Homo sapiens: one gene and its partners. The protein of the gene in region 2 purifies or fractionates together with the protein of the main gene of each other region. This does not show direct contact. Each region holds a gene or a part of one and is shown on either strand. Other genes may lie near its edges.

Region 1 (10,435 bases), on a different chromosome or scaffold from region 2:
GCCACCAGGAGGGAGTGGCAGCTATAGTCTGGCACCAAAGTCCAGGACACCCAGTGGGGTGGAGTCGGAGCCACTGGTCCTGCTGCTGGCTGCCTCTCTGCTCCACCTTGTGACCCAGGGTGGGGACAGGGGCTGGCCCAGGGCTGCAATGCAGCATGTTGCCCTGGCACCTGTGGCCAGTACTCGGGACAGACTAAGGGCGCTTGTCCCATCCTGGACTTTTCCTCTCATGTCTTTGCTGCAGAACTGAAGAGACTAGGCGCTGGGGCTCAGCTTCCCTCTTAAGCTAAGACTGATGTCAGAGGCCCCATGGCGAGGCCCCTTGGGGCCACTGCCTGAGGCTCACGGTACAGAGGCCTGCCCTGCCTGGCCGGGCAGGAGGTTCTCACTGTTGTGAAGGTTGTAGACGTTGTGTAATGTGTTTTTATCTGTTAAAATTTTTCAGTGTTGACACTTAAAATTAAACACATGCATACAGAAGATGGCCTTGCCTGCTGGTGGTGATTCAGAGGCCGGGCCCAGGGTGTCCGTGAAAGGCCAAGATGACCAAGAAATAGATGGGGTGGGAGCCAGGCTTCCATAATAACAAGTTTATTCTCATACAATCTCTAGCTTCTCAACAGTGGCGCCTGGAAAGGGGAGGTGAAGCTGCATGCGGGCGGCTCCGGGTGGGCGGCTCTGGCACGTGGTGGTTACCGGCTCTGCTCGACTGTAAGACATGAGATGCAGTGAACTGAAGGGCCGGGGGAGGAACCCTCTGCCCCAGACCCCTGGCCCTGCCCAAGGCACTTACTGTATGTGGAGATGTCGATTTCCTCTGGAAGTTCTGCCACATTAACTTCAAACCGGTCCTGGACGTCATTGAGGATTTTGGCATCATTCTCGTCAGACACAAAAGTGATGGCTAGGCCTTTGGTGCCAAAGCGACCCGCCCGGGCCACCTGCAGGCAGACAGGATCAGGGTCAGGCCACAGATACTACCTCAGGACTTGAGGAAAAGCAGGGCTGGGGCCCCACCCCACCGCCAGGGGAAAGCAACATGCCCGTGAGGCTGCTCACCCGGTGCAGGTAGGTGTCCGAGTCCTCAGGCATGTCGTAGTTAAAGACGATGTTGACTCGCTCGATGTCCATCCCCCGGCCAAACAGATTGGTGGCCACCAGGATCCGCCGCTGGAAATCCTTGAACTGCTGATAGCGTGACAGGCTGGGGTGCAGGAGAAACAAGTGGAGGCCGTCAGACACTGGGCTCCTGGTGGTGCTCCCTGCAGCCTTGGCGGGCGGCTCGCACTCACCGCTCCTCCTGGGCCATGCCCCGGTGGATGGCGATGGCCGGGAAGTTCTGCTCCACGAGGAGCTGGGCCAGGGCCATGCAGCGCTGCACTGACTTGACGAAGATTATCACCTGAGGGAAGGAGTGGCAGTCAGGGCCACACAGTCCCTGTGGCCCAGTGACCTCCCGAAGGTCCTGAGCCCCAGGACAGGCTGATGGAAGTATCACCTGGTTAAACTCCAGCACATCCAAGAGATCAAAGAGCTTGCGGTTCTTCTCACTGTCTTTGAGTTTGACGTAGTACTGCTGCAGGCCGTGCAGCGTGAGCTTGGTCTCGTCGTCCACAAACACCTCCATGGGCTGTGTGGGAAGGGAGGTGGGAGGGGCGGGCAGGGATCACCTCTGGGCATCTCGCCTGCCCAGAACCTTCCAGTGGGCGACTCCTTTGTGCGACACTTCCCAGAGGACCTGCTGCACCAGACCTCAGTAAACATCGCTCAAAAGCTGGATGTAAGCTCTGGCCCGACTCAGGTGTGGACCAAGCTTGACTCCCAGTTTGACAAGACCGAGGGGAGGAAAGGAGGCTCCGCCGGCTCCCAGCATCCCAGCATCCTCCGTGCCATGTGGGCCGTGCGGGTGTCCTGGGGCCCCAGGCTCCAGGCCCCTGGGGAAGGCCAAAGCTGCCACTCTCGCCCTACTCACATCCTGCATGAACTTCCTGCACACAGGCCGGATGTCCTTGCTCAGGGTGGCGCTGAACATCATGCACTGCTTCTCGTGTGGTGTCAGGCGGAAGATCTCCTGCACATCCCGCCGCATGTCTAGGTGGGGAGGGCAAGACATGGGTGGGCATGAGCGTCTGCCATGCAGGACCCCCACCCCAGACCAGACCCAGACCCCTCCCAACCTGTGCCAGGGAGCCAGTGGCACCGTGACGAGGGCAGAGTGAGCCGCGGGAGTGGCCAGTCCTGGTGCCTGAGGGGCTGGGGGGTGGCCAGCGAGCGCAGGCGCGGGAGGAGCTGCAATCCACTTACACGCTGGCGCGGAGCAGCCGTGCCCGTGCGCCTCGAGCCACGCTTCAGGGAGGGGAGCCTGAGGCAGAGACAGCCGCTGGGGTGAGAGCTGCAGCTGCCTCCCAGGACACAAGCCCATCTCCCACCGGCCCTGTCGGGGCTCACTGAGGGCAGGCGGGGCCTGGAACCAACCCAACAGGTGGCAGAAGCCTCATACTCCCAGAGGTATGTGTGCATGCCTTTACGTCCAGGAGGGACGGGGGCTTGCTTGGGCCCCGTGGTCCCATTCGGCTCGGGCTCAGAAACAGCACATCCCTCTGCCAGCAGCAGAGCTTTCCCCAAGATCACCACAGGAGCCCCGCCTGCCGGCCGCCCATGTAACCCACTCAAGAGCCTTCCGCCTGCTATGGGGCCCGCCTAGTCACTGACTCTCAGCTGGGGCTGCAAGGGCAGAGGACTCACCCAGCTGCTCCAGCATCTTGTCACACTCGTCCAGCACAAAGTGCTTCACATTCTTTAGGCTGAAGCTCCTATTCCGCACGAGCGCCAGGATGCGGCCCGGGGTCCCCACCACGACATGGGGACAGTTCTTCTTCAACACTTCTTCATCCTTCTTGATGGAGAGACCACCGAAGAACACAGACACCTATGGGGATGAGGAGGAAACCGCTCCATGCTGATACACGGCCCAAGGCCCCAACCTGCACGGCCCAGCACCTGCGAACAGGAGGCCTCAGGGGACCAAGGCAGGCCTGAGAGCCTCCCGGGGCTCCACTCAAAGGCAGCCCCAGGCTGGGACCTGCGCAGGCCCCTGGGAGCCATGCATAATTCATCAGGCTTTTAAGGAGCAAAAACCACCGCAAACCTCAAAGGCAGCTGCCCCTGCCAAGCTTGGTAAATGCTGGCTGGGCCAGAGCCGAGGCTAACAAAGCTGCAGAAACCAAGTGGCGCCTGGTCCAGTCTGGCCCGAGGGACTCACCTTGACGCTGGGCATGTACTTGGAAAAGCGCTCATATTCCTTGCTGATCTGGAAGGCCAGCTCCCTCGTGTGGCACATGACCAGGACCGTCACCTGGGAAGTGGCATAAGAAGAGGGCCTTACCTTAGGCAGTGTCCTAAACCCCTTCCCCACCAGAGTCCACCCAACCCAGTCCCCCTGACACTGCACCCAACATCACAGGCCATTTGAAGGCCCGGTCCAAATGCCTCCCACTTCTCACGGCCCTTCCCCACCCCTCACTCCCTATACCCTCCCACAGCTATTGAAACCTGTCTCCCAACACCAGGACCCACAATAAGAAACAGAAAATGGAACAGAAAATGGCCCGCATAATGTAATGGTTAGACCTGGCCTGCCTGGGTGACATGGGACCTGGCTCTCTAAGGATTTCCTGAATCTCGGCACTCGGGCGGCCCCGGTCTTCCCACCCGTGCCATCAGACACTGGACCACACCACAGCCCTCCACAGCACCTTCATCCTTCAGGATGTGCTCTGAGATAACGAGGGCACGGGCGCCAATATGAAGCCCAAAGATGTGCACCTGGCCTGACTCGGGAGCAAGACACCAGAATTCACTGAAGTGTCTCCCCAGGACAGTGGCACACAAGACAATGGGAGAAGACAGCCAGGGCCTAACAGCAAGGACAGTGGTGACAGCTATATTCGGGGCAACCCAACCTTCACAGATGGACACTCTCTAGGTAAGTGGCACGGCAAAACAGCAACGATGCCTCTGGGGCAAGGGGCAAACTGTGGGCACTTTCCAGTTATTTTGGCTTATTGGCAATTTCTAATTTTTGTTATAACTAATTATTTTTTGAGATGGAGTCTACCTCTGCCACCCAGGCTGGAGTGCAGTGGTGTGATCATAGCACACTGCAGCCTCGACTTCCTGGGCTCAAGCAATCCTCCAGCCTCAGCTTCCCAAAGCACTGGGCTAACAGGTGTGAGCCACCCCATCCAGCCTACTCTACTTCCGCCGCCACAGGCAGGGTGGGGCCAGGAAGGGAGGAGCCCACCCACCTGTCCGTTGACAGGCTCAATCTGCTGTAGGGTGGCCAGCACGAAGACCGCTGTCTTGCCCATCCCGGACTTGGCCTGGCACAGGACGTCCATGCCCAGGATGGCCTGGGGAATGCACTCATGCTGGACTGCAGGAGAAGCAGAGCGTGAGGGACGAGAACCTGGATGCACCCCCGTGCAGGATCCTCACCAGTTGACCGGGGGCCCACAGTGAGGGCAATCAGAAGAGGCCGAGTCCGGACAAGGCCACAGACACCTGCAGGGCTGGGGTATCCGCCTGGTCAAAGCAGAACGCCCCACTGCCGAGGGCAGCCACAGGCCCCGCTGGGCACAACTGATCCGCGGGACAGACGGGCCCCTCCCTCACCCACGGCAAACTGGAGGCGGCACCGCTCTGGGCGGGCAGGGCTGGTCTTGTCTTGGTGAGGACCTGGGCAAGAGGATAACACCCAGAAGGCGTACCCTCAGAAGGATGCTCAAAGCCACAGTCCACGATGGCCCGCAGGAGCTCCGGCTTCAGCAGAAAGTCCCGGAAGCCAGAGCTGTGGATGGAAACGTAGGATCCCTTGATGTCTTTCTTAGGGGGAGCTGGTGTGCTCTCTTGAGGAGCCTGGGGCTCTTCCTCTTCATCGTAATCCAAAAGATCGTTTTCCACATCCTGTTCTGCCATGATGCTGAGAAGAGAGAGAGGCAGGGTCCCGCGAGTGGGCACAGAAGGATGATGAAGCTTCATTCAAATGGCATTCTCTGCCGCCTCCTTCCATGAGTGAGCCCATCAGCTCTACCTGGGCTGCACCTCGCAGCTTCGCCCTGTCTCCACCTCCCCACCCCCAAGCTACCCCATCTCTCCCCCATGCCCCTCTGGCCACACCCACAGACAGAACACCCTCCACCTCCAAGGGCTTCCCATGGCTCACAGAGTTAAAATCCCAACTCTCACCACAGGCCAGGCAATCCCCTTGGTTTGACCCCTGCTCACCTCATCCCACACCACCCCCAGCCTTGTTCAGCTGCTCAGACCCCTGGAGCCCCTGCCCCAAGCCTTTGAACCTGGCTGTCACCGCCAGGAATGCTCTGCCCCCAGGTCTCTGCACAAATGCCTCCTTCTCCACACGCAAGCCTCAGCTCCAGTGAACCTCCTCAGACTACTCAGCCCAGAGAAGCCCCCTCCCTATCACTCCCCAAGGAACCCACTGGGCTTTCATGGGGCAGGAGCCCAAAGATCCCAGGGGTGGGGCTGCCAGGATGCTGGTGGGAACTGAGTTTGCGAGAGAGCAAGCAGTATCTGTCCAGCCCCAGCTTCTCCCACTCTCTGTGGTCTGCACAGGGGAATAATTAAGTGCTCTCATGAAAGGCCTCCTATTGGGCCTGGGCCAATAAAAATAAAGCTGAGAAGATGGAAAATGGAATTAATACAAAGTCTGCCTACCTCTTTGCTTTATTAATCTAATGCATACCAAGTGCCTGCTGGGTGCAAGGGACCCAAACATGAGGACAATTGTCTTTCGTCCTCCTCCCCTACCCCAGACTCCAGTGGGGGGTGGAGCAGAGGGTGACAGCTGCTACAATTCTTCCTGAGGCTGGATGCTGAGGATCCTAGGCCACTTTTGGCCTCGCTGTCACTCATTCCCGGCTCAGAAACAGCAATTCCATTGTCTCAATGGCTGTTTTCTCTCTCTCAACCTCCCTGTCCATGAGGCAGTGAATCCCACCAAGGCCCTCTGGCCAGTTCTCACCTATGCTACCATGCTGGCCCCAAGCTGCTATCACCTGTTTTATTATTATTATTATTATTATTATTATTATTATTATTATTATTATTGAGATGAAGTCTTGCTGTCACCCAGGCTGCAGTGCAGTGGCGCAACCTCGGCTCACTGCAACCTCCACCTCCAGGGTTCAAGATTCTCCTGCCTCAGCCTCCTGAGTATCTGGGATTACAGGTGCTTGCCACCATGCCCAGCTAATTTTTGTAGTTTTCGTAGAGACAGGGTTTCACCATGTTGGTCAGGCTGGTCTCAAACTCCTGACCTCATGATCTACCCACCTCAGCCTCCTAAAGTGCTGGGATTACAGGTGTGAGCCACCGCGCCTGGCCTTATTATTATTTTTAACTAGAACAGCTTTACAGGCTGCGCGCGGTGGCTCACGCCTGTAATCCCAGCACTTTTGAGAGACCAAGGCGGGTGGGTCACCTGAAGTCAGGAGTTCGAGACCAGCCTGACCAACATGGTGAAACCCCAACTCTACTAAAAATACAAAAATTTAGCCAGGCATGGTGGCAGGCGCCTATAATCCCAGCTACTCGGGAAGCTGAGGCAGAAAAATTGCTTAAACCTGGGAGGCGGAGGTTGTGATGGGCTGAAATCACGCTTCACTCCAGCCTAAAAAAAAAAAAAAAAAAAAAGAAAAGCTTCACAGAGATATTTACATGCTATACAACTCACCACTTAAGGCAGATAATTCAGTGGTTTTTAGTGTAGTCACAGACATGTGCAACCACTACCACATGTGCAATTTTAGAATACTTCATCACCTTGAAATAAAAGCTCCTGTACCCTTTACGTATCCATACCCTAAACACCCCACCCCAGCCCCGGGCAACCACTAATCTGCTTTCTGTTTCTATGGATTTGCCTGTTGTTGTGGACATTTCACATAAATGAAATCTTATAATTTGTGACATTTTGTGTCTGGCTTCTTTCACTCAGCACAGTGTGCTCTACCACATCATCAGTACTCCCTTCCTTTTTTTTCCCCCCTCTTTGAGACAAGGTCTTGCTCTGTTGCCCAGGCTGGAGTGCAGTGGCCCAATCAAAGCTCACTTCAACCTCTGCCTCCCGGGCTCAATCAAGCGATCTTCCCACCTCAGCCTCCCTAGTAGCAGGAGCTACATGCGCCCGCCACCACTAATTTTTGTATTTGTAACAGAGATGGGGTTTCACCATGTTGCCCAAGCTGATCTCCAACTTGTGGGCTCAGGCGATCCGCCCACCTCAGCCTTCCAAAGTGCTGGGATTACAGGTGTGAGCCACCACACCTGGCCTCATTTCTTTCCATGGTCACCTAATGTTCCATCTCACCAACATACTACATTTTGCTTAACCACTGTCAGCTGGACATGTAGGTGCCATCATCTCTTGCCTGAATTAAGCCAATATCCTCCTCCCTGGTTTCCCTGTTGCCATCCCCCAGCCCCTCCCCAGAGCAGCCAGAAAGACCCTATCAAACTAAGTCACGGCCAGGCGCGGTGGCTCACACCTGTAATCCCAGCACTTTGGGAGGCCTAGGCGGGCGGACCACCTGAGGTCAGGAGTCCAGGACCAGCCTGACCAACATGGTGAAACCCCATCTCTACTAAAAATACCAAAAATGTGCCGGGTGTGGTGGCGGGTACCTGTAATCCCAGCTACTTGGAGGCAGGAGAATCACTTGAACCTAGGAGGCAGAGGTTGCAGAGAGCCGAGATCACACCATGGCCCTCCAGCCTGGGCGACAGAGCAAGACCAAGACTCTGTCTCAAAAAAAAAAACAAACCTAAGAGTACATCACTATTCTGCTCAAAACTTTTAATGGGTTCCTACTGTGCTTAGAAAAAAACTCGAGTCCTCACAAAGCCAGCCTACCGGGCCCCTCCTAACCCGACTCCTCTATACTCATACCTCATCTCCCCCATTGCCCCTCACTCGCCAGCCTTGCTGCCGTGTCTCAAACACACCTCAGCACCTTTGCACTTGCTGTTCCTGCTGCCTGGAAGGGTCACAAATCCCCCACTTCTTTTGGGCCTCCTTTGCTCCAGAAAGGCATTTCCTCACAGCCCCAACTAAAACAGCACCGCTTCCAGTCAGCCCTGCCCTGTGAGAACAGCTAATAAGCACTCCATAGCAATGGCTGAATAAATGGAACTAGAATAAAGGCGTTCAGGCAGAGTTGAACATGTCTCTTTATCTGACCCTTCAAACAGGCAATCTGAAGGGGTCACTTCCCAGGCAGCAGGGAAAACAGGAGCCAAGAAAGGTCAGTCCGAAAAGCACCAGAGCCTTTTGGGGTATGCAGAGTAGGACTAGCTGGCTGGCGTCAGGGCAGAAGACAAAGCTGGAAGAGCTGGTCAGCCACACAGGGCATGTGTTTGTTTGTTTGTTTTTTTGTTTTTTGAGACAGGGTCTCGCTCTGTCACCCAGGCTGGAGTGCAGTGGTGCAATCATAGCTCACTGGAGCCTCGACCTCCCAGGCCCAGTGAGTCCACCACCTCAGCTTCCTGTGTAGCTGGGACTACAGGTGCATGCCACCACGCCTGGCTAATTTTTGTTTTAGTAGAGACAGTGTTTCACCACGTTTCCCAGGCTGGTCGTGAACTCCTGGACTCAAGCAAACCTCCTGCCTCTGCCTCCCAAAGTGCTGGGATTACAGGAATGAGCCACCCACCACGCCCAGCCTGGGCCTGTGTACTTGTTAAGCAATAGGGAACTGCTAATTAGATTGGAGCTGAGCCACTCAATCAGGATCTGCCCAAGAGTACTGTAACTTACTCCTCCGATGAAGGGGTAGGTTAAGACCAGTAGCAGGGAAAACCAGTCACCAAATAAAAGAGAAGTAACCAGGGTAGGGGCGTGAGGTAAGGAAAGAAAGGGTGGGACATGCCAAAAGACAGGAACATCCCCTGACCAATCCATGGGTAGAGAAAAGCCACAGTCTATTCTGGGCTCCAAATCTAGGTGGCCAAGAGATGGTGTATTTTAAGGAAATAAAGCAAAGTTGTTTTGTTGGTGGGGAAATAAATTTGGGGCAGGCCCGGCATGGTGCCTCACTTCTGTAATCCCAGCACTTTGAGAAGCCAGCGTGGGAGGATGGCTTGAGCCCAGGAGTTCGAGACCAACCTGGACAATAAGTCGAGACCGCGTCTATACAAAAACAATTTTTAAAAAAGTAGCCGGGTGGGTGGGGGGAGGGGGGAGGGACAGCATTAGGAGATATACCTAATGCAAATGACGAGTTAACGGGTCCAGCACACCAACATGGCACATGTATACATATGTAACAAACCTGCACGTTGTGCACATGTACCCTAAAACTTAAAAAAACTTAAAAAACACATAGCCCAAGGGGCACCTTCTATGTAGCAAAGGCTAAAAAATAAATAAGTAGAAATTAAAAAAAGAAAAAAATTAGCCCGGTGTGGTGGCATGGGCCTGTAGTCCCAGCTACTTGGGAGGCTGTGCCGGGAGGATCGCTTGAGCCAGGAGGTCGAGGCTGCCAGTGATGGCGCCATGGCATTCCAGCCTGGGTGACAGAGGGAGACCCTTTCTCAAGAAAAATAAATTTAAAAAAAGAAATTGGGGCCCAGCGTGGTGGCTCATGCCTGTAATCCCAGCACTTTGGGAGGCGAAGCGGGCGGATCACTTGAAGTCGGGAATTAGAGACAAGCCTGGGCAACATGGTGAAACCCCGTCTCTACTACAAATACAAAAATTAGCCGGATGTGCTTGCTTGAACCCGGAAGACGGAGGCTGCAGTGAGCCGAGATAGTGTCACTGCACTCCAGCCTGGGCGACAGAGCAAGGCTCTGTCTCAAAAAAAAAAAAAAAAAAAAAAAAAGAGAGAGAGAGATAAATAAATTGGGGTGAACCGAATCTGCTAAGATAAAATTTTCGAGAAACCGGGCTGGACAGGATCTAAAGCTCAAAACTGATTAGATCAGGAAAGGATCCGGCGGGGTTTTCCCCGCCCAAAGTGGGTGGCCATGACCGCTAAGGCGCCAGGAGCGCATGAACTTGAAAGGTGACAGCGGGGAACTCACAACCCAGACACGCCACGTGTACCCAGTTACCCTCAAGTGTCCCCAGGCAGGCTTTCCACCCCGGAGTTTATTCCCACCTGGGGACTCCTATTTCCAAAAGAAAATCTTTTTTTCATTCTGTTTTTTTTGAGGCAGAATCTCGCTCTGTCACCCAGGCTGGAGTGCAGTGTCGCGATCTCGGCTCACTGTAACCTCCACCTCCCGGGTTCAAGCGATTCTCGTGCCTCAGCCTCCCGAGTAGCTGGGACCACAGGCGCTCGCCACCACGCTCGGCTGATTTTTTTTTGTATTTTGAGTAGAGACGAGGTTTCACCATGTTGGCCAGGCTGGT
Region 2 (10,435 bases):
GGAGTGCGACTGGGAGTTTTTGTGTTCTTTTCAAACTATTTGTCAGGCCTCCTTTAACCTCGTATTCTCTTGCATAGAGCAGCGTATCCTCCGTTTGACTGCTGGTTCATAGCTCTGTTTCTGCTTTGCAGGACGGAGAGAGATGCTTCAAATTGGTCCACGGATAAGCTGAAAACACTGTTCCTGGCAGTGCAGGTTCAAAATGAAGAAGGCAAGTGTGAGGTGACGGAAGTGAGTAAGCTTGATGGAGAGGCATCCATTAACAATCGCAAAGGGAAACTTATCTTCTTTTATGAATGGAGCGTCAAACTAAACTGGACAGGTAAGTCTAAGCTGGGCTGTCAGAGAGATTAACTGTGTTTTGTTTAACCTGTTAAGTAGCTGGAGAGAACAGTTTTGAGGAGTTACAGACCTTGAAGGGAGAAGGCAGATGTTGCTGCTTTGGAGTCCTATGTAAAGCAGTATCGAGTCCTGGAATTTCTTTGCCATTGTGGGATGCTAAATGGATTTCCTGTGTCTGGGTCTCATAAGTCCCATCCATGAAGTGGCCGGGCCACTGCATCTTTGGGCCTTGGTCTTTGTTGGGACACCTACGATGATATTTCTTCAGACTAGCTACATGTATCTTGTGAGTGATTTAAAAGGAGGAAGGAGAGGATTTTTTTGGTCTTGATCTTTGTGCACTGTCTTCAGTGTGAATCTTAACAGATTAAACCACTGCGCTAATGAAGCTTGTGTGTGACAGTAATTTGGGGCTGTTTTATCTATCTTCTAGTTTTATGTCCCTTGTGTATGACATTAGGAAAAAATTGAGGTCATGCGTATGACCGTTTTGGACAGTCCTGACTGTCGGGAGCCTGAATGTAAAAAGGCACTAAAGCTAAGGGAGTATGAGATAGCTACTGTCTGTGTATGGGGCAAAGCATGAAATTTGTGCTTTGATAAACATTTCCGAAGTGAACAGTCATATCATAAAGAAGGGTGCAAGTAGATCTATCTGTCCATGATTTTTGTTAATTTGTTTTTAAAGTACACTCGAAGCATAGTAGTGTGGAAGGAATCTTCGGTGTCATCTTGCTCAGACCTCCTTTTTTTTTTTTTAGACAGAGTTTTGCTCGTCACCCAGGCTGGAGTGCAGTGGCACGATCTTGGCTCACTGCAACCTCCACTTCCCGGGTTTAACCAGTTCTCCTGCCTCAGCCTCCCAAGTAGGATTACAGGTGCCCGCCACCACGCCCGGCTAATTTTGTATTTTTATTAGAGATGGGTTTCACCATGTTGGCCAGGCTGGTCTCGAACTGTGTCTGGCCGACGCTTTTTTTTTTTAATATAGGGACTAAAAATTGGTAGCATAGTTTTGTGCACATTAAATGGTAAGAAATAGATAAATATAGGCCGGGCGTGGTGGCTAACGCCTGTAATCCCAGCACTTTGGGAGGCCAAGGTGGGCGGATCACGAGGTCAGGAGATCAAGACCATCCTGGCTGACACAGTGAAACCCCGTCTCTACTAAAAATACAAAAAATTAGCCCGGCGTGGTGGCATGTGCCTGTAGTCCCAGCTACTCGGGAGGCTGAGGCAGGAGAATCGCTTGAACCCAGGAGGCGGAGGTTGCAGTGAGCTGGGATCGCACCGTTGCACTCCAGCCTGGGCAACAGAGTGAGACTCCATCTCAAAAAAAATAAAAAATAGGTGAATACTACAATAAATATGGTGCTTTACCATGAAAAAGACCTGAAGTTTATTTGTGAAAGTGGGCATCAAAGCCAGGCGCGGCGGCTCACGCCTGTAATCTCAGCACTTTGGGAGACTGAGGCAGGTGGATCACGAGGTCAGGAATTGGAGACACACCTGGCCAACATGGTGAAACCCCATCTCTACTAAAAAATACAAAAATTAGCCGTGTGTAGTGGCACGCACCTGTAATCCCAGCTACTTGGGAGGCTGAAGCAGAAGAATTGCTTGAACCTGGGAGGTGGAGGTTGCAATGAGCCAAGATCATGCCACTGCAATCCAGCCTGAGCGACAGAGCAAGACTCTGTCTTGCGGGGGGAAAAGGTGGGCATCAGAAGGGTTGCAGCTTGAGGACTACTATGGAATGGTAGAAGGAGAGTCATCCACAATCAGAGGGAACATTACACTCGTTGAGGATGGGTATGGCTCACAACACACGCTGTAAACTGAGGTCATTGGCAGATAGGTGTTTGAGATGTGTGTGTTTTATGTATCCTGTGTAGCTGGGTGAGGCTTTCCGTATTCACCTAGTGTTTCTCATGGATGGAGTCACATATAAGCAAACATGAACTTCTCATTATAATCAAATTGTTCCCTAATATTTCAGTTGCACTGAAATAAATTGATATTTTCAAAACAAGTATTCTAGCAGAACTACTGGCTTTTGACCCAAGTTCTCATGGTATAACTCATGCTAGTACCAAATCTGTAGCTCTTTGTCTCACATTGTAATAACATAGTTGGTTTCCAGTAACCTGGTGAGGAAAGACATTTCTTTTGGGGGTGCGGGTGTTGATTGCATCTGGCATGTGGCATTCTCAGAATAAAGAGGATCAGTTCAGCCATCCAAAAGCAGCAGAAGTGAGGTAGCAGTTAGGACCCTGGAGCAGAGACCTTTCCTGCCAAGGAGTGGACTAATGACATTGCATTGGTTTTGACAGGTACTTCTAAGTCAGGAGTACAATACAAAGGACATGTGGAGATCCCCAATTTGTCTGATGAAAACAGCGTGGATGAAGTGGAGGTTTGTGCTTCATAACTCCTAATCCGAGTCCTCTATATCCTCTTATTCTCAGATGAGAAAAGTGACCTGTCATTCAGGATTCATAGCCCAGGCTTGGTCCAAGCATTCAGAACCCTAGCCTGCAGATAATTTTCTAGGCATATGGTGCCATTGGAAACTTCTAGAGCAATTTGCACTTCTTTAATTTCTTCACTTTAGCTAGTGACATGGGTTCTAACTAACATTAGCCACTTGACAGAGAGGACTCAAGAAGGAACACTAATGGGGATTGTACGAATACCGCAGTACTCATGCATTTCCTTTGGAAATGTCAGCAGTCACCTGATTGCTCAGCCCCCACATTCCATAATGAGGGTGCCCCTCAAGTTATTTACCACCTACTTCTCATCTTTCACCCAGATTAGTGTGAGCCTTGCCAAAGATGAGCCTGACACAAATCTCGTGGCCTTAATGAAGGAAGAAGGGGTGAAACTTCTAAGAGAAGCAATGGGAATTTACATCAGCACCCTCAAAACAGGTATCCCTTGAGTAGTTCTGTATGCCTTAAGGAGGTAGTTTCCACCTGTTAGACTCTGGTTAAGGGCCTGGACAGTCCTTTCTTTGGCAAATGGGTAAAGATTTGGGGGGAGGGGGCTTATTTCATCTTAAAGTCAGTCCATAAGCTCGGAGTAAGGGAAAGATCTGGAGCTGTGTTGCCTAATAATGATGGTTGAGCATTTTAGATGTGGCTAGACCAAACTGAAATGTACTGTGATGGCCTGGCGCGGTGGCTCACACTTGTAATCCCAGCACTGTTGGATGCTGAGGTGGGCTGATTGCCTGAGCTCAGGAATTTGAGACCAGCCTGGGCAACATGGCGAAACCCTGTCTCTACAAAAAATACAAAAATTAGCTGGATGCGGTGGCCCATGCCTGTAATCCCAGCTACTCGGGAGGCTGAGGTGGGAGAGTGGCTTGAGCCCAGGAGGCAGGGAGGTTGCATTGAGCTGAGATCATGCCACTGCACTCCAGCCTGGATGACCAAAAAACACAAGAGATGTGCTGTGAGTATAAATTACACTACGGGCTGGGCACAGTGGCTCACACCTATAATCCCAGCCCTTTGGGAAGCCGAGGTGGGCGGATCACCTGAGGTCGGGAGTTCGAGACCAGCCTGACCAATAGAGAAACCCCATCTCTACTAAAAATACAAAATTAGCCGGGCATGGTGGTGCATGCTTGTAATCCCAGCTACTCAAGAGGCTGAGGCAGGAGAATTGCTTGAACCCAGGAGGTAAAGGTTGCGGTGAGCCAAGAACGCGCCATTGCACTCCAGCCTGGGTGACAGAGGGAGACTCCATCTCAAAAAAAAAAAAAACAAAAAAAAAACTGTATTTGAGGCTCACATTATATTTCTAATGGACAGCGCTAATCTAAAGACTTGGCATCTCTGGACTCATTACTTGAATACAGTCTGGACTATCTTTGATATGCACTCTCCAGGGATATTTAGATGCTTAGAATAGAAGTCAGCTCAGCTTTCCCCTGGGATTCCATTTCTGCCAGTGTATTCTGATCTTGGTGTTGGAATATGTATAATAACCATCAAAGAAGGTGATGGAAGGTGATAGACACCTTTTTGGGGAGGACCAGTACACCAGTGCCATAACTAGTTGTGGCTTTTCTGCAGAGGTAAGGCAGAGTGGAGGAAAGGCACTAACCATGCATCCATAGGTGCTGGGTAGATTACCCACTCTTGAAGTCATCAAAGTGCCACGGCGTTCACGCCATCCTTCCATAGTAGACCTCACATGCACTTAATATGTTATAATGTTTCCAGTTGAGTCAGGATAAGCTTTTAAAAATAATCCCAGTGGCCAGGTGCAGTGGCTCACACCTGTAATCCCAGCACTTTTGGAGGCCGAGGCTAGTAGATCACAAGGTCAGGAGATCAAGACCATCCTGGCCAACATGGTGAAACCCCGTCTCTACTAAAAATACAAAAATTAGCTGGGCATGGTGGTGCACGCCTATAATCCGAGCTACTCAGGAGGCTGAGGCAGGAGAATAGCTTGAACCAGGGAGTCAGAGGTTGCAGTGAGTTGGAGTGCAGGCTGCACTCCAGCCTGGTGACAGAGCAAGACTCCATCTCAAAAAAAAAATAATAATAATCCCAGTGAACATACTGTATTCTATAGCATATACCCAGGTACCAGTCTGGCATAGGCCAAAAGTAAAGATGTAAAAATAGCCTCTTCCTTTTCTGGTCATAACCTCATTCTGTGGTAGGATGGCTGTGTTTGTCAAGCTGTAATGAAACTCCAGATCTCAGCTACTAAGAAGTAACTTCCATGAGCTGGAATTTTATCTTTTCAGAGTTCACCCAGGGCATGATCTTACCTACAATGAATGGAGAGTCAGTAGACCCAGTGGGGCAGCCAGCACTGAAAACTGAGGAGCGCAAGGTAAATGGTTTTCCTGGGGTGGGAGACTGTCTGCAAAGGAACTTGAGAGACCGCCTTCTTAATTCCACATATCAGCTCTCTGTGTCCCTAACCTCTAAGCCAGACCAGCCTGCGATCTGCTCATGGTGCTTTTTCAGAGCGCCTGCAATATGCATTCATTCACCCATCTTTAACCTGGTTTTAATTCATTTATCGCAGACCTTTAGAGCAAGTAGGAGCTATCAGACAGTTAAAAGTCTGACTCTTGATTGCATTTAGCACCAGTTAGGAGGTTATGAACAAAGGATGGACTTCACCTATATAAGTCTTCAGTCTAATTGGTGTGTTGATATTTCATACTTTGATATTAGAGGTCCCATCAAGAAATGGAGTTACATCCCTGTCTTCACCCAATCTCCCCAATTTTCAGGGTGAGCAAGTACTTTATCTAGAGATGGAAGTTTGTGGTTCAAGCTCAGCACTTGGTTTAGAGCCCTGTTGCTCTTTTGTCAGCATAGTGAAGTGGATACTCTGGAAGTGGGGAGAAAACCGCTTCCAGCTATTTAAACATAGAAATTGTTTGAGAATTACACTGAGCTCTTCAAAAATATCTCAATGATTTGATTTGTTATTTGACTATCAGGGTCTTCCTTGTAGAGTGGTTATTTTTACTGGGAATTGAGGAGGTTTCCAGAATCATTACCCTCATGACTGAAACACCTACACACTCAAATTCCCTTCAAACCCCTTGGAATAATTACCCTTGGAGGTGAACATTTTTATGAGAATGAATGGTACAACTGTCTCTGAAGCCACGTTGATTGAGGTTGTATCATTACTCTGTATTGATCATTTTCACTGCCACCTTCACAGGCTAAGCCTGCTCCTTCAAAAACCCAGGCCAGACCTGTTGGAGTCAAAATCCCCACTTGTAAGATCACTCTTAAGGAAACCTTCCTGACGTCACCAGAGGAGCTCTATAGAGTGTTTACCACCCAAGAGGTAAGTAAGTCTTGTCCTTCAGGCCTCATGCCATCTGCCCTTCTAGGTGACTTGAGTTGGGGGCATATCCCTTCAGCAGTGTACAGAAGAGGTACTCACAAACTCACAACTGGAGCCATGAGGCCTTCATCAAAGTGAATTTTTCCCTCCCTCTATTCTCTTTTTTTTTTTTTGAGACGGAGTCTCGCTCTGTCACCTGCCCAGGCTGGAGTGCAGTGGCACAATCTCAGCTCACTGCAACCTCTGCCTCCCAGGTTCCAGCAATTCTCCTGCCTCAGCGTCCTGAACAGCTGGTACTATAGGCACACGCCATCACGCCTAGCTAATTTTTATGTTTTTTAGTAGAGATGGGGTTTCACCATATTTTTTAGTAGAGATGGGCTGGTCTGAAACTCCTGACCTCAAGTGATCTGCCTGCCTCAGCCTCCCAAAGTGCTGGGATTACAGGTGCAAACCACTGTGCTCGGCCATATTTATTTATTTTAAAAACAAAAGACCTGGTCTTGCTATGTTGCCCAGACTAACGTTGAACTTCTGGGCTCAAGCGATCCTCCTTCCTCAGCCTCCTGAGTAGCTGGGACTACAGGTGCACACTACCGTGCCTGTTCCAGTTTTGGGTCATATAAGTAGAAACCACTGAGTGAATCTTACTAGAAAAGTGAATGGCCATTCTTGGTTACTCTGTAGCACAGAAGAATTCCTGGCTTCTTTGTGTTGCACAGCTGACTTGTGCCATTCTGCTGCTATAGTGTGGAGTTGAGAAACATGACCGTATTCAGCTTTATTATCTGATAGTAAAGGTGGTTAGGATATGTGGAAGTTCCCATATACTCTGGGACAAAATTTCAAGATCTTATTTTTTAAACAAAAATGTAAATACAGCCATAAATTAAGAGGTACCATGTAGTATATGGGTGTTAGTATGTCTGTGCGCCTGCACCCAAAATACTCTCGTGATAAGTTCTCTCCCCCTTAGAAAACCAAGAACTGGAGAAGCAATTAAATGGACTGGGTTTTCTAGAAATTTAAAAAGATGTGTATAAACAAAATTGTACTGTACTTCAGAAAGTTATCTTAGTTGACTCCAGAGATGTGTTATGACCTGGCTATGCCAAAGACTGCATTCGATGGCTAACTTGGTTCTACTTGGTGCCTGCTGCCTTGAAGGACTTAGCAGCATAGCTGTGGTCTTCATGTGAATTGAATTTAGCACTTCAACACAGACTTCAGTTGAATCTCTGCTTCCAAACTAGCTAAAGTTTTCAGAGTTTTAAAATACTTTTGTATGGGAGGATTCCTAACATTTTTAACCTTCTGTTTATTTTTAATTTTGTACCATGTATTCGTATTACCTACTTTAAAAAATAGTAAAGTCTTATTAAAAGTAAAAGCGGCACCGTTGGGTAATCGAACACAGCAAAATGATACTGATTTCATATATATGGAGTAGGCCAGGCACAGTGGCTTACATCTCTAATCCCAGCACTTTGAGGGGCTGAGGCGGGTGAATTACTTGAGCCCAGGAGTTTGAGACCAGCCTGGCCAACATGGTGAAGCCCTGTCTCTACAAAAAATACAAAAATTAGCCAGGTATGGTGGTATGCGCCTGTAGTCCCAGCTCCTCAGGAGGCTGAGGTGGGAGGATCACCTAAGCTTAGGAGGTCGGGGCTGCAGTGAGCCATGATCATGCCACTGCACTTCGGCCTGGGCAACAGAGCGAGACCTATCTCAAAAAAAATAAAAGGGCTGGGCGCGGTGGCTCACGCCTGTAATCCCAGCACTTTGGGAGGCCAAGGTGGGTGGATCACGAGGTCAGGAGTTCAAGACCAGCCTGGCCAAGATGGTGAAACCCCATCTCTACTAAAAAATACAAAAAGTTAGCCAGGCATGGTGGCATGCGCCTGTAATCCCAGCTACTACAGAGGCTGAAGCAGAGAATTGCTTAAAACCTGGACGGGCGGAGGTTGCGTGAGCCGAGATCGCGCCACTGCACTCCAGCCTGGGCAACAAAGTGAGACTCCGTCTCAATAAATAAAAAAATAAAATAAAATAAAAGATGGAATAGATCTATTTTGGGACATGTTCTCAGAAATGATAATAGAAGTCTCAAACATTTACTTGAGAATTTTCTTTCATAAGCTCATTCTTATATCTTTCTGAACCATATACAATTTCAAATAAATAAAAGTAAACGGGTCCAAAGTAATGGCATCATCAGATCAGAAAGAATTCCCGAAGTCAAGTCCTGGCTGGTATTAAAACAGAATAGAGGGACACCCTGGACCCGCCTGTGGGGCAGACTGGTGGAAATGAGAGTTGAGGCATGCAGCCTTCAGCTGGCATTTGTCCTTGGGTCCCACTGAAAGCCATGTATCTTCTGCCTCTTTTTTTTTTTTTTTTTTTTTTTCCCTGCAGCTGGTGCAGGCCTTTACCCATGCTCCTGCAACATTAGAAGCAGACAGAGGTGGAAAGTTCCACATGGTAGATGGCAACGTCTCTGGGGAATTTACTGATCTGGTGAGTACCTGCCGGCCCTAGACTCAGGTTATTGCCTCTGGTCAGATGAGTGACATTTCTCTTTTTCTGAACTCTATAGGTAAAATGTAAGGCTTTAATCTCTTTGTTAATAAAACATTTTGTTTTTCAAAAAAAGGCTGTGATTTGAACTGTCTTGCAAGTAATATAATTGCACAGATGGTAGACTCCGTATGAAGGGCAGATGACTGATCCTAGCTAGGATTGGGTACATTGTAGTATATAATATAGACTGAGCTGTTTGATTATTTTAGGTCCCTGAGAAACATATTGTGATGAAGTGGAGGTTTAAATCTTGGCCAGAGGGTAAGTAAACATATTTATTGCCATTACCCCCAGAACTTTTTCTCTTTGCTGTAATTTTTTTTTTTTTTTTTTTGGAAACAGGGTCTCACTGTCACTCAGGCTAGAGTGCAGTGGCATAATCACAGCAAACTGCAGCCTTAACCTCCCAGACCCAAACGATCCTCCTGCTTCAGCTTCCCAAGTAGCTGAGACTACGTGTGCCACCATGCCAGCTTTTTTTTTTTTTTTTTTTTTTTTACTTTTTTACTTTTTTTGTAGAGATGGGGTCCTACTACATTGTCCAGGCTAGTCTCGAACTCCTGGGCTCAAGTGATCCTCCTGCCTCAGCCTCCCAAAGTGCTGGGATTACAGGTGCATGCCACCACGCCCACGTAATTTTAGTAGAGATGGAGTTTCACCATGTTAGCCAGGCTGGTCTGGAACTCCTGACCTCTGGTGATCCGCCCACCTCAGCCTGCCAAAGTGCTGGGATTACAGGTGTGAGCCACCACGCCCAGCCAGGTTGCCCCAGTCTTAAACTCAGATGGAAACCTAGATATGAAACCTCCGTCCCCTCTGCCTTTCCCAGGACACTTTGCCACCATCACCTTGACCTTCATCGACAAGAACGGAGAGACTGAGCTGTGCATGGAAGGTCGAGGCATCCCTGCTCCTGAGGAAGAGCGGACGCGACAGGGCTGGCAGCGGTACTACTTTGAGGGCATTAAACAGACCTTTGGCTATGGCGCACGCTTATTTTAGGGCCAGCGGCAGGGGACTCCAGCCTGCTGGACACTTCAGTCCAGCTCTCTCCTGACTGGGGCTTGCGACTCACAGGATTGCATCGTCCCAGCTGCTAACTTGGGGCCGGGGCCCCTCCCTTCCACATATACCTTGGGTTTGTGCATGTTTTCTGCTGGGTGGGTTCAGAGGGCAATTTCTCTTTTATGTGTACATATGCTAAATAAACATAATTTAAAAAACATGCGTGTCTGGAACCTATGTTGATTGAGTGGCTGGTATTGAGAGCTCCCTTGAAGGTTTTGAATTCAAAAAAGAAGGACAGGGTGGACAGCCTTGTCTCTATTCTGGGTAAGTGTAGGTAATTAAGAGGCACAGAGCCTGCTTCTCACTACCAGGCATTCCTGAGCTAGTCTTTCTTACTAGTAAATAGTTTCTGCCTTTTTACCCATAACAGTAGGGGAGGGTTGGTACTTGGGTAGGGAGTGCTAACACTATGCCTCTACTGCCAGTGCAGTTGACTTCTCACTTTGCACTGCCCATGGCCTCTTACCCTCTTGCAAAGATAAGTGATCACCAGATGCTGGTTTGGGATATGGGAAGGTGGGAGATTCCTAACTTGTGGCAGCTTCTGTTACATTGCAGTTACTGAGTACTAGACACTACACTGTTTACTTGCATTAACTCATTT
Region 3 (10,435 bases), on a different chromosome or scaffold from region 2:
TGGGGCTGGGCAAAATGTCCATGAGGCCTCAGTCTGGCAGAAAGGCTTCCCCGTCAACCTGATGACGGTGCCAGCCATGGGCACGCATGGATGCCACTGGTCTTGTCCCTGGGGTCCTGCCTAGGCTGCACCTCTTGGAGCCCACGGGCGGACCCTCCACGGTGGCTGTGTGGACCGCACAGGACACGTGCACAGAACCACACAGGGAACTGGCCGGCCCCACCCACCGCCCAGGGCCCGCCCCGTGTCTGTGCTGTCTCCTGCAACTGATGTCAGGGTGGGTCCTACCATGTCCGGGGCAGAGGCCTGGCTGCCCAGGAGGCACCCACCTCCACCACCTTCATCTTCAGGCTGGGCATGTTCTCCACGGCAGTGTCCAGGCAGGCCTTGAGTGCCGGGGAGTCCAGGAGGCCGCTGAGCAGAGGGTCCTCTGGCAGCTTGGGCCTCTCCTGGGCCAGCACCTGCGCCAGCTCCAGCTGCAGGTTCCCGTTGAGCTGAAGCCTGCAGGCAGCCGACAACAGCCGGGGCAGTTCCTGCTGTGAGGGGTCCCGGGGGATCTGGGCCCCATCCAGTCCGGGCACCACCATCTTCAGCCCCTGCTGGGTCACCTTGGTCTGCAGTGCCTGCACCAGCCCTGGGGAGGGAGGGAGGCAGGCCTGGTGTTCCCAAAGCCCCAGGGCATCTGCCTGGCATGGGCTCTCAGACCCACTCTGTCCTTCTGGGGCCACCACCCCGCTCTGCCCACAGGATGAGAAATAGCTGAGGGTTGAGGAAGGGGCTGCCCACCACTGGGAGGCTGACTCCTGCCCACTGTGGACGCAGTGAGGGGCCGCATTCAGCTGCAGGGGCTACTCTGTGCCTAGCCAAGGTGTGACCTTAGGCTGAATCTGTCATCTTTGCCCCCAAGTACCCTTTCAAGACTGAGGAACAGTGACCAGGGACGAGGAAGGCTGGGGGCTGGGGGAGGGAGGGAGGCCGCCATCGTGAGCTCCGGCCGGAGGGTTGGGCTAGGGTTGCTGACCCCAAAGGGGGCCCCGTGGAGAAGCAAGTCTGGGGTCAACGTGAGGGGAGGCGATCGCTCCTCATCGCCAGAGGTGTCCGAAGCCAGCAGGGCTGGGACCTCACCCTTGCACAGTTGCAGCTCCTCCTGCAGGGCAGCGCGCTCAGACAGGCACCCCTCCTCCGTGTGGGGAGTGAAGCAAAACTTCTCCAGGATGGGCACCTGCTGCTCCTGCTGCCGCCGCGGGGCCGACTCAGTGTGGAGCCCGGAGATGTGGACGCCTCCGGCCACTGTGACCCTCAGCCACCTGCTCACCACCACGTCAGCCACTGTGGGGACAGGCTGGGTGAGTGCGGCATACTTGGGTGGGGGCACTGGGCTGGGGCTGGGGCGGGGCTACCTTGGGCCTTGTCCTGCAGTGTGTACAGCTTCTGCCTGTGGGTGGCAGGGTCGATGTGGATGGCGGTGACACGGGTGGGCAGGTACAGGCCGTGCTTGGCCGAGCCCAGGATGGACATCTGCAGCATGGTGTCCATGAAGCTCACCCAGTTATCCTTCCACAGCAGCCTCCCCGAGTCACCTGCACACAGGGCCTGGTTGGTGCTGTGGAACTCCCAGGTCCCTGGGGCCACCTCCCAGAGCCCACCGGGCCCCTCTGCTCCCTCCCAAGCTGCATGCCTAGCTGTGGGTGCCCTCTGTGGTCCCCACAATGACGACCGCCCTCCCCGGTGGCTTGGGCAGCAGTGTAGTCAGTACCCACCTTCCAGGCTGGCCTCCAGGATGCCCTGGAAATGAGGGCCGTAGTCGTAGCCACGCAGACGCAGCTCCTTGTAAACTTCAGCCTGGGCCAGGAAGAGGGGCTCCGTGGGGTTGGGGGTGGGGCTTTCCGGGTGGTCGAAGAGCCTGGGGTCAGGGTCATCCCACTGGTACACCTTCCCTGTGGAAAGGGAGGTGCGGAAGGGCCTGAGGACGGGCGGCATGGCCAGCGGGCACAGCCTCCGCAGCTCCCGTGCCACCGGCCCTGCTTACCACTCACTACCAGGTTGCCGTTCTCTGACACCTCGAAGGCACGGGAGGCCTCCAGGAGCCGTACCTCCAGGGACACTGTCCCTGCAGAGCGGGAGAGTTGGAGATCAGAGGGCAGCACCCGCCCCCCAGCTACCCCCGCCTTGGTCCTGGGGTACCCCTCACCAGTCTTGGGCAGGATGGTGGCCTGGTGCAGCACCACATCCTCAAACACCACAGGCAGCTGCTCGACGCCCAGGCCCAGGGCGCGGGCCAGCGTCTTCCACACTATGCTCAGGTAGCCAGTGGCGGGGAAGAGGACGCGACCGTCGAGGGTGTGGTCCACCAGGTAGTGGTCAGGAGACTCGGAGCTGGTGTCTGCGGGAGGGCACAGGCCTCAGCACAGAGCGGGCGTCTGTGGGGAGGGAAGAGTCTGCCCACCCGCCGGGCCCCTGCTCACCGATGTTGTAGATGGCGGCTGAGGGGGAACCTGAACCGTTGGGGAAGTCCTCGGCGGCCGGCACGTCCCAGGCCAGGCTGTGGTCCCACTTGATGAGTGGGGAGATGAGGGGAGTTCCTCGGGGAGCTGGGAACTCCACAGGTGGGAACAAGGCATTGGGGTTGGCGTCGATGCTACGGAGAAGGGAGGCATGGGTAGCACACCCGTCACCGGGGTCCAGGGGCTCTGGGTTCAGCCCACCCACTGCCTGCGGTGGACCATCCAGGGCTGCTGCCACCGGCCTGGGTCAGTGAGGGGCCCGCAGCCCCGCTCACCCACCCCACGCCGTCCCCGACTCCGGGAGACGAGACCCGGGCTGGGAAGGGACCCACCCTGAGAGGTGCAGCCTGCCGATGCCGGCCAGGAAGAACTCCAGGTTGTCCCTGTGATCCTTCTTCATCAGGGGGATGATGGTGCAGCTCGGCTTCAGGCCACGCTTCAGGACAGCCTGGGGGCGGCAGGGCAGGTGGGCTCTCTTGGTGCTCAGCTGAGGCGCCCATCCCAGGCTCCCGGCGCCTGCTGCCCCCAGGCTGGGCCTACCTGCAGCAGGGCGTGGGGCGCGATCTCCAGCACCACCGCGTGCTCAGGCACGTGCCACAGGGCCTCCTGGAACAGCACAGGGCTCACCAGGTTGTTGACATTGTACTCGGCGGAGGACGTGCGTGCCAGGCTGCTGTGCCACTGGGCCTCGGGGATAGAGGTGCTGAGCCAGCGGGCTGAACGTGGCTTCGGCTCCCGGATCACCTGCATGAGGGGCCAGGTCAGTGCTGGGTTGTGGGTCCCCTGGCCCGCCCCGCACCCCCCAGGCCGTATTAGTCCACCTTCTTGAGCTCCTGCAGCAGTGGGGGTGCGATGGCCTCCATGAAGTAGGAGTGGAAGGCCATACCGCCGGTCCGCACCTCCTTGGCAAACACACCCTCCTTCCTCAGCTGCTCCACGAACTCAAACACCGGGGCCTGGACATCGTGGGAGCCTGGATAAGCATCCTGGCTGGGCACCCACCTCAGGCTCGGAGAGGTAGGGCGCACCCACCTCACCCCAAGGGAACCGAGAGGGAATGGGCAAGGGACCTGAGGACAAACCTGCCCCATGCCCCAGGCCCGTCAGAGCTTGGTGGGGCGTAGACCGTGGCCGCGTGTCCCTGCCAGACTTGCAATGGCAGGCGCAGGGGACAGAGGAGCCCGCCCAGGCCGCAGCACCCACCTGAGGTCCCGAGATGGTGACTGTGTCCTTGGAGTTGTGGCAGGCGGGCACCACGCCCGGGGGGCAGCGCTGTTTACACTCCTCCCAGGACAAGCCTATGGCAGAGCCAGCCTCAGAGGCTTAGCGTGGACACCGAGCCGCTCCCAGCCACCCACCCACCCAGACACTGCCTGCAGCTGGGGGCAGTAATGACAAGTGTGGTAATGGCAGCCTTGGAGCCTTCATGAGAAAGGTTCGCCCCCTGCTGTGTTTGACCCGTGGGTGGAGGTGTCATTACAGAGCTGCCACTCCAGGGGCAGCTCCTGGGAGCCCAGTCCCCAGATGGTGGCCCCCTCAGTCCTCTGCAGCCAAGGTTCTTTCCAGGTCCTGCCCACATGTGGCCCATGGGGCTCAGAGATGGGTGCCAACAGAGGGCACCAGTCTGAGGGAACCCTGATGACCCGTGTGTTGGCTTCACCAGAGCCCCTGGGTTCTTGCTATGCTGCAGCTGTGTGCTCATCACACGGGGGCTCCACGCAGGCCTGATGCCCATGGACACGTGCCTAGGCCCAAGGCTGCCAGGTGTGGGGCCAGTGGGGCAGCTGCAGGGGACTCGCGCACGGCTGTGTCCGAGCTGGGTGTCCCCGGGCCAGCGGGGGCCACTCTATCCTACGGGGGCCAGGCCAGGGCTGCAGGTGAGGACCCCACAGCGAGAAGGCAGCCTCCTTTCTTGGAGGTGCTGGGGGCCCCTCCGGGAGACCTACCCACGGCTGCCATGGCGCCCGGCGGGAGATGGGCTTCTTTGATGCACTGTCCCCTCCAGTAGGCAGCGAGGACGGCCTCCTCCTGGGACAGGCAGCCGTCGGCGTAGCCACAGGCCACCTCCCCCAGGGAGTGGCCGACGATGCCATCTGGCCTCAGCCCCATGCAGCTCAGCAGGTCTATGAGGCCTATCTGGGGTGGGAACAGGACACTCAGGTTGCAACCTCCAGCAGGTGCAGCTGTTGGGGGCGGCCCCCGGCCCCACTAGGCCATCTCCACCCCCGCGCCCCATCGACCCTCCCAGGTCTCCTGATAGGAAAGAAGCCCCTATGGCCCCCACACAGCCCCACTGAGACCCCTCCTCCCCTCCCGTCCTGCCCCCAGCACAAGGCTCTGCCTAGCAAAGGGGCTGTCAGGGGCCCCGGACTCAACACTGCAGCTCCTGGGCTCCAGGGAAAGCCAGAGCCCTGGGGCTGGCGTTGCTCACACGCTGGCAGGCTGGGCCCTACCTGGATGGCAGTCAGGCTCACAAACGAATGGACGATGTCATCAAAGGTGCTCTCGTCTGTGCTCAGCAGCAGCTGTGACACCTTCAGGCCGAATGGCTTCACAGCCTCATCGGAGCGTAGGATGGAATCTCGGAAGCGGTCCAGGCGCATGAGGCTCAGCCCCATCCCGCGCCACTGTGTGCCCATCCCTGTCCCAGAGAGCACGTCACGAGGCTCAGCCCCATCCCGTGCCACTGTGTGCCCATCCCCGTCCCAGAGAGCACCTCAGGGGACCACCAGCTCCAGTTCGCCTGCCTTTCCCCAGGGAAGGGACCACCTTGGGGGCAGAGTGTGGGCTCACCAGAGCAGATGAACCAGAGCGGGCGCTCGCCAGCGGGCACCTGCTGCACCTCTGGGCCACCGCGCTCACCACCCAGCACAGCGTAGCCACGGAAGGGCATGGCGGTGGCGGGGACAGCCGCGATGTCGTTCAGCATGCTCAGGAAAGCCAGGTCCTGGCTGTGCCGGAGGCCCTGCTCCAGCAGCTTCTGCACGGCCTCAGGGGTGCGTCCGCTGGCCCGCAGCAGACGGGGCAGGGTGGCATGTGGGGCGGGTGCGGGGGGCGGCTGCGTGTTGGGCCTCAGGATGATGTGCACGTTGGAGCCCCCGAAGCCAAAGGAGTTGATGCCCACGTTGCCGCCACGGACGGGCAGGGGCTGGTCCACCACCTGCAGCCGCCCATCCAACAGCGCTGGGATCTCAGGGTTGGGGCTATGGAAGTGCAGGTTGGGGGCCCAGAGCCCGTGCTCCAGGGACAGCAGCACCTGCGGGGGTACGTGGTGGATGGGCAGCCGCCCCACTCCCTCTACCACTGCCTGAGCTGGGGGCAGGCACCTCCCCGAGACTCTCATGTGGGGCCAGGGTTCCAGGGCCCTCTCCGATGCACTTCCTGTCCCCAACCTAATTCTGCCATGGCACAGGGGTCCGAGGACTGAGCCGCCATGGCCCTGCCCTCAGCTTGGTCCAAGACCTCCCCTTCCGGCCTTGCTGCCTCCCAGCCTGATGTGGACCCACCAAAGCCTGGCTGTGGCCTGAACACTAAGGCCCCCTTGGCCCAGATGTTGCATCTCAGAGGCTGCAGAAGTTGGGGGGCAGAGGGCGTGAGTGATCATGGGTGTTGGGGCTCCTGTGCCTGGTCTCTCTAAAGGTCCCCAGGCCTCTGCTAGTGGGTCAGGAAGCTGTAGGGACGGGTGGGCGACACGGGAGACCCTGATGGTGCCGTGGACCCCCCCAGGCCTGCTCCTGCCTCGCTCTTCCCACCCAAGCGGCTCCTCCAGCTCGGCTCCGTGTCCGGCAGACGCTCTGCAGGGCATCAGGCCTCCAGGGAAGGCCCAGCGAGCCTGGCTACGAGCTCTCCCTGCTGTCAGCCTCAGTGCCTCTGCTCAGACCTGCAGCATAGCCCGGGGGACAGAGGCTCCTGGTGGGGAAGCCCCCGCCTCCACTTGGCAAAGAGAAAGCAGCAGTGCCCAGCCATGGCGCAACCCAGTCCCAGGGAGCAGGAGCCTGAGGGACCCCCAAGCCCAGCCCCACCTACCTTGGCCAGGGCTGCCAGCCCCGAGGCTGGCTCCGGGTGCCCCATGTTGGACTTGGTGGAGCCGATGAGCAGCGGCTCCTGGCGGGTGGCGCACAGGGCTCGGGTGATGCCATTCAGCTCCTGGGGGTCGCCCACCTGTGGGAAACATGGGGGGTGAGGGGCTCTGGCCAGGTCACCTCTCCAGGCATGGGCGTAGGTTAGGCTCATGGGGTGGTGAGTGGGGCGGGGGGGGGGGGCATCACCTTGGTGCCTGTGCCGTGGGCTTCGATGTATTCAAATGACTCAGGGGCCACTCCGGCCGACTGGTACAACGAGCGGATGAGCTGCTCCTGGATATCCCCTGAGGGGAAGGTCACGCCTGCGGAGGGCTCGGCTCAGTGCTGCAGCCCCAGCCCCGGCTCCCACCTGCCCCCCAGCACCCCGGAACCCCGGCAGAGCCCACCTTGCTCCTTGAAGCCATCTGTATTGGTGCCGGCGTTCAGGATGGTGGCGTACACCCGCCGGGCCAGGGACTTCTTGGTCAGCAGGACGGCCACCACACCCTCCGAGCGGCAGTACCCATTCCCTGGGTAGAGCAGCACCTCAGGCCCGGGGCTCAGCCCCACGCCGGCCCCCACCCCACCAGGAGGAGCTCTGGGGTGTGGGGTGGGTGCTTGGGTGGGGGATCCCCGGAGCTGGCAGGATCCTGCTCAGCGTGGGGACTGTGCGGGGGGCCGTCCTGTGCCACTGTCCCGCCTGCCCTGGCCGCGCAGCCGCACACTCACCCGCTGTGTCGAAGGCCTTGCAGGTGCCCTCGGGGCTGAGCATCCCCAGCCTCAAGAACTGCACGGAGGTGTTGGGCTTCAGCAGGACATTGATGCCCCCCACGATGGCGGCAGGGCACTGCCCGCTGTGGATGGCCTGGTAGGCGTTCTGCAGGGCCATCAGGCTGGAGGAGCAGGCTGTGTCCAGTGCGATGCTGGGCCCTGCAAGGAAGGGTGCTGCGGCTCAGGTGGGGCTGTGAGCACACGAGACCCCTGAGCACACCTCCTGCCACCAGGCTGGACACACACTGCACGGAGTGAGCCCACGCCACGTGGTTTCTGCTCAGCATGTGGGGACCTGAAGGCCACCCACCTCCGCAGGAGGCTGGGCAGGACCCACCTCTGAAGTCGAAGAAGAAGGAGAGCCGGTTGGCCATCATCGCTCGCTGGCAGCCCACCATGCTGTAGCCCACGAGTGTCTCGGGGTCTCGGCTCAGGGCCTCCGAGGTCTCAGAGCCGCTCACGCCCACCCAGACGCCAGTGTGTGTTCCTCGGAGTGAATCTGGGTTGATGCCTGCCACAAACAGTGGTCAAGGTGCCACGGCCGGGCCCCACAGCGCAGCCAGCCCACCCACCCACCCGGCTCTGGGGCGAAGGTCCCATCTTGGCCTCACTGGCTTGGGGTGAGGGGGGGTCCATCCCAGTGGGACCCTGGAAGGGGCCTAAGGAGGGTGAGGTGTCCTGCAGAGGGGCCAGAACAGAGCCTGTGGCCAGCAGCCAGCCCAGGTGAGGCCTGGAACAGGAACCAGGTCACAGAGGGAACGAGGCGGAGGGGGCAGGCGGGCCCAGGGGAGGGCACCAGGCACGGCCAGAGTGGCTCCAGGAAGGACAGAGGGCAGCATTGTCCCCAGGCGACGCCTTTGGCCCCTGGTGTCACCGGCAGCTCTGATGAGCCCGTCGGCCAGTGGCCTCTCCAGCGCCAAGGGCAGCCTGCACCAGAACAGGCCGTGATAAGGAACCGAGGAGACAAAGGCCAAGTGTCCAGGCTCGGGAAGGAGAGAGGGACACCGGTCACCCCCGGGGAGCATAACCTTAGTCTTGGGGTGGGGTCTGGCAGCAGGAAGGGCGCAGGAGAAGGGCTTCCACCTCTCGGCCAGCAGGGCCCCTCCTCGCCCCTGGTGGGCTGGCTCTGCCCTAGGGTGGGTGGGTGTGTGAACCGCTCACACCCAAGGGCAGCCCAGGGCTCAGCCTCCCCCTCAGGAGGTCCTTCTCCGCCCGGGGAGGGAGCACCTGGATCTTAAGAAATGGCATGGCTGGGCGTGGTGGCTCATGCCTGTAATCCCAGCACTTTGGGAAGCTGAGATGGATGGATCACGAGGTCAAGAGATCGAGACCATCCTGGCAAACATGGTGAAACCCCATCTCTACTAAAAATACAAAAATTAGCCGGGCGTGGTGGTGGGCGCCTGTAGTCCCGGCCACTCAGGAGACTGAGGCAGGAGAATGGTGTGAACCCAGGAGGCAGAGCTTGCAGTGAGCTGAGATCGCGCCACTGCACTCCAACCTGGTGACAGAGTGAGACTCCGTCTTAAAAATAAATAAATAAATAAAAATAAAAATAAAAAAACGGCGTGGCGCTTGTCCGAGGTCAAATGCCAGTCAGAGCGAGGGCCAGGCTGGCGGGAGAGGGTTGAAATGCCTGGGGTGGGGGGACGTGGGCAAGGGTAGTGGGGAGGGTGGGAGGGGAGAGACAGCAGGGCCGGTGCTGTCCGCTGCTTGGCTGGTGGGGGTGGGGGCCTGGAGGGCCCCTCAAGAACCTCCTGCTTTGCCTCTCGTCACTCCAGCCCCGGCCCCGGCCCCAGCACCAGCCAGACATCAGAAGCGAGGAGACTGGTACGCTCAGGTCAGGGCACACCCGCGACACCTCTGGGGTGCAGTTGGGAAACTGCGGCCTACCCCGTGGCCCACACCTCCCTGAGCCCGTTGGCCAGGCCAGGGGCACAGCCGGGGAGGGTAGGTGGTGCCAGCACCTGGTTCTACCAGAACCAAGAAGAGAAAACACTGCCTATTCCACGTGAGCAGCAGGAGCCCTCGGCGCAGCAGTCGCGAATGCCCGACCCACCTCCGTCCACGATGGCTTCATAGGTGACTTCCAGCAGCAGCCGCAGCTGAGGGTCCATCGTGTGTGCCTGCTTGGGGTGGACTCCGAAGAAGGAGGCATCAAACCTAGACAGGTCCTTCAGCTTGCCGGACCGCCGGGGCAGGCCGTAGAGCCCTGTGGGACAGGCGGGTGTTTAAATCTCTGACGGAAGCTGCCCAGAGGTGGGGGCCCTGTGGGGTGCTGCAGGCCCCTGGAGGGGCCATGGTGGAACTGAGGACTCTCTGCTATGCCTGGGAGGCCCAAACAATGGAGCAGGCTCCCCAGGAGGGGAAGACCATGGCCCCAAAGCGGGGACTGGTACGACCAGATCTGCTGCACAAGCCCCAAGCCCCAAGCCCCAATCCTGAGATGGGCCGCAGAGCAGAGAGCTCGGCGGGAGTGAGGCTGGGGGACCATCTGCCGGGCTGGTGCCTCGGCTCTACCATGCTGACTCACAGCTTGCCTGTCAGGTAGAGCTGCTCTGTGGAAGAGCCTACTGGGTGTGGGGCAGTTGCTCCAGCCTCCCGGAGCACATCTGGTATGCAACCTCCCAGCTCAGGACAGACACAGGCAGGGGCAGCCTGGCCGGAAGGGCTCTGGCCCCCCGCACCCCCTGCATGGGTGAGAGACCCCAGCCCGTCACCCATCCTCTGAGCTTGGCTCCTCCGTAACAAGCAGATGGGCCCTGCCTGGGCCAGCCCTCGGCCTTGCAGCCATTGGGGGAGCCTCCTGTTGGCCTTGCAGCCGTTGAGGGAACCTCCTGGCAGGCTGGGCGCATTTTCTAGGCCACTCTGGTGCAATGTCCAGGAAGGAGGCTGCAGCTAGGCCTCGCCCATGGGTGACCAGTGGCTCTGCAGCTGGGACCGGCCTCAGGCCAGTGCCTGGGTGGTGAGGACACAGCACAGCAGGGAGGCTGCTGTGAGGACAAAGGTGGAGATGGAGCTTCACACCCCAGGCACGGGGAGCCCCGCAGCCACATACCCGCCTTCCAGCGACGGTCATCGTCCGTGACCATGTCCACA

What was found.
Region 1: the proteins of AHSA1 (region 2) and DDX39A fractionate together in Homo sapiens (co-fractionation; 2 studies listed by BioGRID). This does not show direct contact.
Region 3: the proteins of AHSA1 (region 2) and FASN purify together in Homo sapiens (affinity purification with mass spectrometry; 2 studies listed by BioGRID, with this or other methods). This does not show direct contact.

Annotation. Positions count from the first base shown.
Region 1 is NC_000019.10:14,408,244-14,418,678, forward strand, and holds the end of DDX39A (ATP-dependent RNA helicase DDX39A), read right to left. Parts: intron 4,982-10,435; 5' UTR 4,978-4,981; coding exon 4,770-4,977; intron 4,436-4,769; coding exon 4,308-4,435; intron 3,356-4,307; coding exon 3,263-3,355; intron 2,930-3,262; coding exon 2,746-2,929; intron 2,092-2,745; coding exon 1,973-2,091; intron 1,631-1,972; coding exon 1,499-1,630; intron 1,403-1,498; coding exon 1,293-1,402; intron 1,205-1,292; coding exon 1,060-1,204; intron 942-1,059; coding exon 794-941; intron 710-793; coding exon 693-709; 3' UTR 555-692; downstream 1-554. UniProt on the Homo sapiens protein: Helicase that plays an essential role in mRNA export and is involved in multiple steps in RNA metabolism including alternative splicing. Regulates nuclear mRNA export to the cytoplasm through association with ECD.
Region 2 is NC_000014.9:77,459,485-77,469,919, forward strand, and holds the end of AHSA1 (activator of 90 kDa heat shock protein ATPase homolog 1), read left to right. Parts: intron 1-131; coding exon 132-322; intron 323-2,675; coding exon 2,676-2,758; intron 2,759-3,157; coding exon 3,158-3,275; intron 3,276-5,113; coding exon 5,114-5,202; intron 5,203-6,054; coding exon 6,055-6,183; intron 6,184-8,598; coding exon 8,599-8,700; intron 8,701-8,972; coding exon 8,973-9,024; intron 9,025-9,592; coding exon 9,593-9,765; 3' UTR 9,766-9,988; downstream 9,989-10,435. UniProt on the Homo sapiens protein: Acts as a co-chaperone of HSP90AA1. Activates the ATPase activity of HSP90AA1 leading to increase in its chaperone activity.
Region 3 is NC_000017.11:82,085,925-82,096,359, forward strand, and holds part of FASN (fatty acid synthase), read right to left. Parts: coding exon 10,395-10,435; intron 9,549-10,394; coding exon 9,396-9,548; intron 7,848-9,395; coding exon 7,674-7,847; intron 7,496-7,673; coding exon 7,295-7,495; intron 7,096-7,294; coding exon 6,973-7,095; intron 6,889-6,972; coding exon 6,773-6,888; intron 6,666-6,772; coding exon 6,531-6,665; intron 5,761-6,530; coding exon 5,298-5,760; intron 5,146-5,297; coding exon 4,958-5,145; intron 4,641-4,957; coding exon 4,451-4,640; intron 4,217-4,450; exon of another isoform or gene 4,036-4,216; intron 3,803-4,035; coding exon 3,708-3,802; intron 3,461-3,707; coding exon 3,326-3,460; intron 3,249-3,325; coding exon 3,045-3,248; intron 2,953-3,044; coding exon 2,837-2,952; intron 2,639-2,836; coding exon 2,466-2,638; intron 2,384-2,465; coding exon 2,192-2,383; intron 2,111-2,191; coding exon 2,030-2,110; intron 1,938-2,029; coding exon 1,761-1,937; intron 1,581-1,760; coding exon 1,401-1,580; intron 1,330-1,400; and 4 more. UniProt on the Homo sapiens protein: Fatty acid synthetase is a multifunctional enzyme that catalyzes the de novo biosynthesis of long-chain saturated fatty acids starting from acetyl-CoA and malonyl-CoA in the presence of NADPH.